Homo sapiens: one gene and its partners. The protein of the gene in region 3 purifies or fractionates together with the protein of the main gene of each other region. This does not show direct contact. Each region holds a gene or a part of one and is shown on either strand. Other genes may lie near its edges. The genes, in order: EIF2B3, RAD18 and SYT2.

Region 1 (3,651 bases), about 160 Mb from region 3:
CCACTGTGCCCGGCCTCAATCCCAATTTTCAACAATTTCTTTTATATTATTCTGCGCTCCACTGCCACCCTGGTCTACACCTGCAATTATATTTTCACAGGGTTCTACCAGGAGCAATGTCAATAACTAATCTTTTCATTATCTCACCTCTGTTATCCTTGAATGCCACCCCAATGTAGTTCCCTCAATTATTTATCTTTTCCTATCCTCTTTTTTTTTTTTTAATACAGAGTCTCACTCTGTTGCTTAGGCTTAGGCTGGAGTGCGGTGGTGCAATCTCAGCTCACTGCAACCTCTGCATTCCAGGCTCAGGTGATCCTCCCACCTCAGCCTTCCAAGTAACTGGGACTACAGCCACATGCCACCATACCTGGCTAATTTTTGTAGTATTTTTGTAGAGACAGGATTTTGCCATGTTGCCCAGGCTGGTCTCGAACTCCTGGACTCAAGCGATCCACCTGCCTCGGCCTCCCAAATTGCTAGGATTATAGGCGTAAGACACCGTGCCCGGACTCTTTTCTTATTCTCATCTAAACCCTTTACTGCTCTGCATTTCCTTTTCCTAGTCTTATTATTCCTCCCTCCCAAAACCTTCCTCCTGGGCCTACTATACAATACAGAGTTCCTTTATACCTTCAGCCTCTTTACTGTCCCCCTCTCCACCCCCTGCCTTCATTAAGGCCTGGCTTATCTTTGAGGACACTGCTTCTCCTTCAGTGGAAGCTATTTGTTCCCCATATCTCACAAACTTCAAGGTTAAAAGGAGGGGCTAGCAAGAGACTCCTCATTAATGCTGTTTGCAGACAATTCTCTCTCAAAGTCATTCCTTTCCTGAGGCTTTGCCATCTGGCCACTCTATACTCTGCTCCTTCACCTTCTCAGGGAAGCCTCCTCTGTATGCCTATGTTTACTTCATCAGAGTAATGATTACAGAGTATTTACCTGCTTATTATGAAGTAAGTACTGCAGATATCCCCATGCTGAACAGAACAGGAGGAACCTGCTGACCCAAAGGCCAGAAGTTAGCCTTCCTGAAGATCTTAGCCTTTCCCTGGAGCCATAGAGGCCCTGACTATGGACCAGGCCCCCTGCTTCCCTTTTTGCTGCACCTGAGTACCCTAGTAGTCTCCCTTGACGTGCCAGGTCTTGCTCAACCTTGGGAATGACAGGGATTCTTAACAAGTTACTATGTACCTAATGAAGAAACAGACAAGTGGCTCAGTCTGTTTCTAGGACAAGAGCCCCATGATTTTCTAACTCATGCTCTCACCTGTCTGTTTGCTTCCATGTAGAGTCCCAGTGTGCTCACTCGAGAGCAGAGCCCCTCTTTCATGATGTGGACATAGCAGCGCACCTGTGATCTGGACAAGTCTTCCCACCTGTCTCCTCGACAGGCATTCCAGCAGGCATCATAGGGAGCCAGGTTCAGTGTATTGGCTTCTTTTATAAAACTGTAGATATCTTCAGAACAAACACCCAACCAAGGAAATAAATGAGAGAGAGATAACAGAACAGATACAGACTCAGTCAAGTTGTTTTTTTGTTTATTTAAGAGACGAGGTCTTGCTATGTTGCCTAGGCTGGTCTCAAACTCCCAGACTCAAGGGATCCTCCCACCTCAGCTTCCTGAGCAGCTGGGACTACAGGTGTGCACCACCATGCTTGGCTCTAAGTTTTAAAAGAGATTACAGCTCACACTTCTTCCTTTGAAACTCACCCACAAAACATGAACCCTGAGGAAATCCCACTAAAATCTGTAAGAGAAAGTCAAACTAAAAGAGGAAATGTACTTCCCTAAAATATCATATGATATAAAAATGCTTAATACGAGGTCCTAAAAGCATGTGACCGGTAATCAAGACCACTAGGGAAAATAAAACAGATGACCCTTGTAAATCATGAAATAACACAAGCCAGCATCCAGGCTTTAGTGGCCAGCCAGGTTGACTTTGTGCTGCTAGTCTCTATTACCATATCTGGTAGCTGTGCTATGACAGAAAGTACAGAACTTGGAGCCCAGAGTACCAGGGCTCTAGTTTTTCAGCTCTTACAACGATCCTTTGAGATCTTTTACTTTCTCATAAAAAAACTGGGGCTCAGAGGACTGAGTAACCTGCCTCAAGACACAATGCTGGCCGGGCACGGTGGCTCATGCCTGTAATCCCAGCACTTTGGGAGGCCGAGGCGGGTGGATCATGAGGTCAGGAGATCGATACCATCCTGGCTAACACAGAGAAACCCCGTCTCTACTAAAAATACAAAAATTAGCCGGGCGTGGTGGCGTGTGCCTGTAGTCCTAGCTGCTGGGGAGGCTGAGGCAGGAGAATGGCGTGAACCCGGGAGGCGGAGCTTGCAGTGAGCCGAGATTGCGCCACTGCCCTCCAGCCTGGGCGACAGAGGGAGACTCCGTCTCAAAAAAATAAAAAAAAAAAAAGACACAATGCTAGTAAGAGGCAGTCAGATTTCAAATCCAGAACTGTCTGATGCCCAGTTCTACAGTCCTAATCATCATGCTGTACTGTCAGTGTATTCATTTGATAAATACTTTTTCAGAATATCTACTATGAGTCCACGACTGGGCCGGGGATTAGGGATATGACAGCAAACAAGACAGATCCGATCTTCAGATCCTGGCACGGAGACACCTGGGTTGGCCTGTGGTTGGACTGCAATTGTACATTCCTTCACTTTCCTTCCCTTGATAAAAGAGGTTGAGTTTAATCAGGAACGGGGCTGCCTAGAGCCTAGAGAACAGGGGAACTAAGAAGTGGCAGGTGGAGTTTAAAGGCAAAATGGTCTAGTGAGGAACACAGCCAAACCAGAGCTATGAATCAGAGAATGGGGCTGGAGGCATGATTAGCCTGTTGCCGAGAGCACAGTGGCAGAATCTGCCTGAGCAAGCTTACCCAGAGCTCAGTGGGTTGGCAAGCCTGTCTTGCCTCGTAGGCTAGAAATAGTCTGCTGCCTTGAGTCAGGCATCTTGGGCTGGGCTAAGCTGCCCAACCACTCTTTCCAAAGGTGCTGCTACCCTTGCCCCTCTTACTGAACCAACCCAAGAACTGACCTAAGGACTTCAGCTCCTTTTTCTTTAGATCCTCCTCTTTTTCTTCTTGTCCCTGTTGTGAGGAAGCTGAGGAAAACTGTTTTCTCACTAAATATGGAATCAGTTCACTCCGGATAGAAGTTATTGACCTAGAAAGAAAGAATGGCCAAATATGAGAAACCTGACTGTCTGGAACATACCCGGATCAAAAGCTCTGTGCATACAAGGAAAAGCCAAATCCTTTCCTGTCATGGCACCTTGGGACTGTCAGAGATCAAATGTGGCATTGACTTGGCAGTTCGGAGAAGCAGAGTGCTTCCTGGTGGGTACTGAGACAGGATGTTGGGTCTAAGTGATCAGGAATCTGTACTAGGGGAAGAAGGGACCTGATCTTTAGTTCAGTGTGTGTTTTTTATTTATGTTTTTATTTATACTTAGCAATGGAAAGCAGAGAGATGAGAAACTAGCACATGTTTTTCAGTGTTCTCTCACACTGTGACCTTATTAGAATTTTATATTGCTAATTAATTTATGTAGCATTTACCAAGCATATGCGAGTTACTGTGCTAGGCCTTGGAAATACATCATTTCTGACTTCAAGGAATTCA
Region 2 (3,651 bases), on a different chromosome or scaffold from region 3:
TGAAAAGGCATGTTTCAATATCTTGGATTACTTTTAGTTTTAATCATGCAAGTCAAACAAGAATTTTTATGAAGGACGTACTGGTTTAGATAGTGGTCAGGTGCCCCTGTAGTTAAGTGTAATCATGTGTTGCTTAACAGGGATGTGTTCTGAGAAATGTGTCATTAGGCAATTTGGTTGCTGTGTGAACATCATACGGTGTACTTACACAAACCAACATGGTATAGCCTACTACACTCCTATTCTATATGGCAGGGCCTATTGCTCCTTGGTAACAAAACCTGTACAGCATGTTACTATAGCTAATACGGTAGGCAGTTGCAACACAATGGTACCTATTAGTGTATCTAAACATAGAAAAAGTACAGGGAAAATATGGTATAAAAGATAAAAAATGGTACATCTTTATAGGGCATTTACTATGAATGGAGCTTTCAGGACTGAAAGTTACTCTTGATGAGTCAATGAGTGAGTGATAAGTGAATGTGAAGGCCTAAGGCCCTTACCATACACTACTGTAGACTTTATAAACACTGTACACTTAGACTACACACTAAATTTATAAAAAAGTTTCTTCAATAATTAACCTTACTGTAACTTTTACACTTTGTAAACTTTTATATTTTTTTAACTTTTTGACTCTTTTGTAATAACACTTAGCTTAAAACACAAACACATCGTATAGCTGTATAAGCATCTTTCTTTATATCCTTATTCTGTGAGGTTTTTTCTGTTTTTAAAAATTGTTATTATTTTTTCCTTTTTAAACTTTTTCTTAAAAATGAAGATGGAGGCCGGGCTTGGTGGCTGACGCCTGTAATCCCAGCACTTTCGGAGGCCGAGGTGGGTGGATCACGAGGTCAGGAGATCGAGACCATCCTGGCCAACATGGTGAAACCCTGTCTCTACTAAAAATACAAAAATTAGCTGGGCATGGTGGCACACACCTGTAATCCCAGCTACTTGGGAGGCTGAGGCAGGAGAATCGCTTGAACCAGGGAGTTGGAGGTTGCAGTGAGCCGAGATCACGCCACTGCACTCCAGCCTGGCGACAGAGTAAGACTCCGTCTCAAAAAAAAAAAAAAAAAAAAAAGAAGATGGAAACACACACATTAGCCTAGGCCCACACAGGGTTAGGATTATCAAGATGTCACTTAGCAATGGGAATTTTTCAGCTCCATTATCGTCTAATGAAACCACCACTGTGTATTTGGTCTCTTGTTGAACAAAGCATGTTGGAACATTCTATGAGGTACCTTATGTTGCTTTTAAAAATATAAACAGATTTCTTTCAATAGAATTACACATTTCTTTATTGGTTTGCATTCTAAAAACGATCAAATTTAGTACAGTTGTCTCTCAGTAAAGGGGATTGGTCCCAGGACCCCTGAGAATACCAAAATCTGTGGATGCTGAAGTCCCTGACATAAAATGGCATAGTATTTGCATATGCACATCCTCCCTTATACTTTAAATCACCTCTAGGTTACTTATAGTCCTAATACAATGCTATATAAATCGTTGTCATACTGTGTTTTTAAAATTTATATTATTTTTCATTGTTGTATTGTTACTTTTATTATTTTTTGAACATTTTTGCTCTGTGATTAGTTGAATCCACAGATGCAGAGCTGGTGGATGGGAAGGGCCGACTACAGTTTATTGTTTAGCCAAATGGTTCTAGACTGCTGTTTACATGTTTCTGATCAGAACAAGCATTGCAGGACTTTAGTTACAGAAGTCCATGGAATTGATTGCATAGATTTAATGGCTGCCCATGTCTACCCAAAGGCCTATTTTGACTCTTGATTCTTAGCCCCATTCTGAAGAGGTAAGGTTATTGTATAGTTAACAGATGGACAAGACTTTTCCTTCCTTCCTTCCTTCCTCCCTCCCTCCCTCCCTCTCTGCTTTCCTTTCTTCCTCCCTCCTTTCCTTTCTCCCTCCCTCCTCCTTTCTCCTTCCCCTCTCTATTCCTCCCTCCCCCGTCTATTCCTCCCTCCCTTTCCTTCCCTTCCTCCCTTTCCTCTCTTCTTCTTGCTCTGTTGCCCAGACTGCAGTGCAGTGGCATGATCATGGTTCACTGTAACCTCGAACTCTTGGGCTCAAGGGATCCTCCTGCCTCTGCCTCCCAATTAGCTAGGACTATGGGTATGTGCCACCATGTCCACACTGAAGAAATAAACAAAGCTTCCTTAAATATGTGGTAGAATTTACCAGTGAAGCCATCTGGGCTTGGAGTTTTCTTTGTGGAAAAGTTTTAAATTATAGCTTCTGTTTCTTTAACAGATAATAAGGGCTCTTCAGGTTTTCTGTTTCTTTGTCAGTTTTGATGAATAGTGCTTTTCAAAGAATTTGTCCATTTTATCTAAAATTTAAAATTTGTTGTTTTAAAGTGTTCATAATATCCTCTAATTATCTTCTTTATAGGATTTGTAACGAGGTCTTCTTTTAATTCTTTGTTTTGGTAATTTGTATTTTCTCTCATTTATTTCTTGTTCAGTCTTAGTAGGGATTAACAGTTTTGTTAATTTTTTCAAAGAACCAATGTTTGGCTTTGCTTGTTTTCTCTTGTTATCTCTTCTATTTCACTAGTATCTGTTATTAGTTTCTCTCTTCTTTGGGTTTAGTTTGCTGTTCATTTCCTAACCTTTTAAGTTGGAAGCTTAGAGTGGTGGTTTTTACTTTTTCTATTTTCAATAATTTTCCCTCCAGGGACAGTTTTGGCAACCCTTCATGCTATCGTTCAGTTTAGAATATTTTTCTAGTTTTCATTGTGATTTGACATGCGGGGTTATTTAGAAGTGTGGTGCTTTATTTCTTAACATTTGGAGATTTTCTAGTTATTTTTCTGTTGTTGCGTTTCATGTAAATTCGGTAGTGGTGGAATCTATGGGTTGATTTTTTTTTTCTATCAGATTTGAAAATTCTCAGCCATTGGTTTTTCTAGTATTGCTGATTTCCCATTCTTTCTTTCTGTTCCTTCTGGGCTTTTAATTATGCCCAATATCTCATACTTTTTTGTGTTTGTCTTTTTCATTCATTTTTCTCTCTGTGCTTGGTTTGGATATTTTCTATTGACCTGCCTTCAAGTTTGTATTGTGTGTTGTTATACTCATCCAATTTAGATATGGTATTTTGCAGTTGTAGAATGTTCATTTTATTCTTTTTTATGGATTTTATTTCTCATAATACACTATCTTTTTATCCCTTTTCTTTTTTTTTCTTTAACATGTTTATCATAGTTTGAAGTCCTTACCTAGAGATGCTATTCTTTGGATTACCTCTGGGTCTGCTTCTATTGAATATTTTATCTCTTGATTAGTGGCTACTTTTTCTTGCTTCTTTGCATGTTCAATAATTTTAAAATATGTGCTGAACATTGTGGTTGAAACGTTGTAGAAGCTGTGAATTGTCTTCTTTTGAAAGATGTCACATTTTGTTCTAAGAGGCAGTTAAATTATCAGCTCTTCATCTTTGTTCTGTCAAGGCCTGGTATAATGTTTTCTTAGGTTAGGTCTGTTTGAGCTTTGTTTATATTTCTTCAGTGTGGTCCATTTTTCTAAGGTGTGGTCTTTGTGGGGTGTCACTTGAATGTCCATGATCTTACCAAGATTTCTCAGCTTTGGCTGGGCTCCAATGCGAACAACT
Region 3 (3,651 bases):
ACTCTAGGGGAGCATGAGGTCCTTACTAAGCATTCACTGTGTGCCCGGCTCTGGGCTGGGCTTCACCTAGGACAGCAGTTCTCAAACCTTTTGGTTCTAAGACCCGTTTATTGAGGACCCTCCAAGAGCGTTTTCTTATGTAAGTTAGATCCATCCATAGTTACCATATTCAAAATTAAAACTGAGAAATTTCTAAATTAGCTCAAAATACAATAGTAACTCATTACCTGTTAATACAACATATTTAATAAGTAACTATATTTTCCAAGACCAAAAAAATATATAGTAGACGTTTTCTCTAGTAAAATATCTAGTAAGAAGGAGGCCTTGTTTCACATCATTGCAAATCTCTTTAATGTGTGGTTTACTAGAAGGTAGCTAGAGTTTTATATCAACTTCGGTGTTCGGTCTGTCTGCAATACATTACTTTGATTGAAAGATGAAAGAAAATCCAACCTCACTCAGATATGTAACTGGAAAGGGGAGGGGTATTTAATAAAGCCTTTTCAGATCATTGTGGATATTTTTCTTTGATATGACATCACTGCTCCCCAAGTGGTAGCTTCTTAAAGACTGGCTGCAGTGGGGAATCTGAAACCTTGCACTTGGAATGCTTGTTTGCCTCTGTGCATGATTTTGTGACATCATTCATTTATCATTTCGAAGATATTGGCTTGCCGAATTGTGAAGATCTTTCAAATATTGATGAATTTCATTAAACAATATTAACAAATCACATCTATTACTATTCCCACTGATCTTATCACAAAAGTCCTTTTCATAGTAATATGTGTGAGTTTTCCAAAATTCTAATTTTTGCTTGAAAGCTTAAATTTTATCATTGGCCACAAATACTGCCAGTTGTTTTTCTGGAAGTGACGAGCTCACTTCGTTCATTTTTGCAAAAATGCCTGCTCAACACCCAAGTCTGAATAACTGGAGTTTGTTGGTTGTTCTTTCAGATAAAATGGTATCCCATGGAAAAATGGCTAGTTCAGCCTGCAACTCAAACAGATGCACAGGTGATGGGCACTGTTCAGTTGCTTGAGAAATTATTGTGTAATATTTCTGTAAGAAGCAGAAGTGCTTTATGTGTACTTCTCATTCCATCACAGAGAATATTAAAAAGATGTGCACTCCAGAATCAAGCTTCAATATAATTATAATCTTTGCTGCTTCATGAAAAGAAGACATTCTTAACTGAAAATGGCATTTCATTATTTACCAATTACTTTGCTTAGCGGGTGTGTAGTGTGGAAGAACACAAAGACGGGTGCAGTGTGATACTATTACCTTGATTCATGGTAAGGTGCCAGCAGCTTCACCCACCACTGCTTTAGCACCATCAATGTCAAGCATGGGAATGGCAAATAACTTTATTGCCATCATGGAAACTGCTTTGACCTTATGGACCCCCCTGAAAATTCTTAGGGACTCCCAGGGACCCGTGGCCCCCATCTTGATTACTGCTATAAGGTAAACTTCACAAGGGCCTGTTCCCTGTGTGTTACTGTCTCCATTTTCAGATGAGGACCCCGAAGTTCAGAAAGTTTAAGTAACTTGCCCAGGGTCACACAGGCAGGAAGTGGCAGTCTTGGTTTGACCTAGGCCATCTGACTCCCAGCCACACACACGCTGCTTCAGTTATGCCCTACAGAACATGCTGTGGGGGCCTCTCCTCTGCCCCTTCCCCATTGCCTCACCTCCTGAGGTCTTTGGGGCTCACGATCTACTCCAGGGGAGGCACGAAGACACCTCCAGGTTTGCAGTGGTGAGGACCTGGGCTTCTATTACTGTCTGCCCCAGGGCACCCCTGCCACCCTCTACCAGTAGGAGACCTAATGGGGGTGGAGCACGCCTCCCTGGGAAGCCTCAGACGTCTGGGGCTGGCTTGCCAATGGCAGGCTCAGTTCTTGATGCTTCCCTGCCTCCTGCAGCTGCAGCAGCAGCAACCAGCACAGTTCCCAGCATCAAAGAGCTAATCCAATTTCTCAGCTGTGCTTCCCCCTTCGCCTCCTGCAATGCCAGGATTGATTTGGAAACAGGGCAGCCTTATTAAAGTGATGCCTTTTCCTACTCGTGGGAGAGTCAAACTGGGAGAGGGAGCCCTCCCACAGCCAATTAACTCCATGCTTCCCGCTAACACTGATCCTAGCCACAGCCACCCTTGAGTTTCCTGGGGTTTACCTGTAACTCTTCTTAGCTCCTAGTGGTGAGGATGGATTTCAGTCCTAGGTCTGCTTCCCTCCAAGACCCAAGAGCACTTAACCAATAGGTTCTTGTTCATCCTTCCTGCACTTCTAGAGGGTTGCCTGGGTGGTCCCCTCTCCTCCTGCTTGCAGGCCTCCACCCCGTCTCCTAACATCCCATCTTAGGCCCTATGACCGGGCCGTCACTTGGTCCATCTGAGTTGGTACAATGAAAGATACATGGCAGACAGCCCCAAGAGGGATAGAGGTAAAGACCTGTACATTTGTTAAATGGGCTTTTCTCCAAATAAACACAGGAGGCAGAAGACAAGGACAGTCCTCAGAGACCTCTACCACCCTCAGCCCAAGCCCCTCTCCAGGCCCCCCTCCTTGCGGCCTCACAGCTCTCCTCTAATCTAGGGAGTTAAGGTGTAGCAGAAGCAGAGAAGGCCCCGCTCCAGAAAATGCTTCCTTTCTACAAATAGCATAAAAACTGCTTCCCGAGTCACTTTGTAGAAGAGGAAGGACATGCACAACACATCTGGATCATTAGTTCAGACTGGAATCAATGGTGAGGAAAAGAGATTTCTCTCAAACCACCCAGCCCTTAGGGAGCAGAGGTTCTCTGGGAAGGTCTTTGGAGCTCAGAGCACTGGCTGACCTTGGGGAAGGCATTTCTGGTCTGGAAAGGAAAAAATGAGCACCACCTCTTTGACGCTACCACCCTCCCACCCCCGGCCACCGCTCCCCTCCCTCCGCCGCCCATACACATGGCCCTACCCAGCTCAGCCCTGCAATACCACAAATGCCTCATTTGACTTCAGAGGAAAATGGAGCTAAGAGTAGGAGTGAGGAAGGGAGTAAAAAGAAGGGCGGGGGAAGGAACAAGTGGGGAGGGAGAGATGAAGGTACAAGGTACCCTCTCCTGTCTCTCACATGCACACTACTGCAGGTGGTTACAACTCTTTTCTGTTTCTCCACAGCTGAGCAGGAAACTGGGAGAAGAGCCCTTCTCCCCTGCAGCCTCTCCCTCTTGGCCTCCATCACCACTCTCCTAACCCCTGCCAAGCCCTGCATCTGATCCTACCTGAGCTAAAGAAGCAGAAGGTCCGGAGGGAGCCTGTGATTTTTGCCTCGGTCACCTCTTACAAATGCGGTGGGCTGCTGGGCTCGCCCTAACCCTGCATCACCCCCAGGCTGCTCCTTCAGTCTACTCGGGTATGGAAAGGGTTAAGCTCCTCCCATCCCCTCCTTCCTTCATCCCATTTCTCCATTCACTTCTATTTTCCCATATGCCTAGTGCCAAGCTCACAGTTACAACCACTTACACCCTGTATTAAGATGCATGGAATAGTAATGGGTAAATTCCGTCTCTAATTGCAATATTTCCTAATTACTAAATTCCAGAGCCACTGTATCAACCCAATTATGGCAAGTCCTGCCAGAGTTCTCCATGGTCTGA

The links.
Region 1: the proteins of SYT2 (region 3) and EIF2B3 purify together in Homo sapiens (co-immunoprecipitation; 2 studies listed by BioGRID and IntAct, with this or other methods). This does not show direct contact.
Region 2: the proteins of SYT2 (region 3) and RAD18 purify together in Homo sapiens (co-immunoprecipitation; 2 studies listed by BioGRID and IntAct, with this or other methods). This does not show direct contact.

What each region holds. Positions count from the first base shown.
Region 1 is NC_000001.11:44,878,548-44,882,198, forward strand, and holds part of EIF2B3 (translation initiation factor eIF2B subunit gamma), read right to left. Parts: intron 3,193-3,651; coding exon 3,065-3,192; intron 1,462-3,064; coding exon 1,271-1,461; intron 1-1,270. UniProt on the Homo sapiens protein: Acts as a component of the translation initiation factor 2B (eIF2B) complex, which catalyzes the exchange of GDP for GTP on the eukaryotic initiation factor 2 (eIF2) complex gamma subunit.
Region 2 is NC_000003.12:8,942,911-8,946,561, reverse strand, and holds part of RAD18 (E3 ubiquitin-protein ligase RAD18), read left to right. Parts: intron 1-3,651. UniProt on the Homo sapiens protein: E3 ubiquitin-protein ligase involved in postreplication repair of UV-damaged DNA. Postreplication repair functions in gap-filling of a daughter strand on replication of damaged DNA.
Region 3 is NC_000001.11:202,700,339-202,703,989, forward strand, and holds part of SYT2 (synaptotagmin-2), read right to left. Parts: intron 1-3,651. UniProt on the Homo sapiens protein: Exhibits calcium-dependent phospholipid and inositol polyphosphate binding properties. May have a regulatory role in the membrane interactions during trafficking of synaptic vesicles at the active zone of the synapse.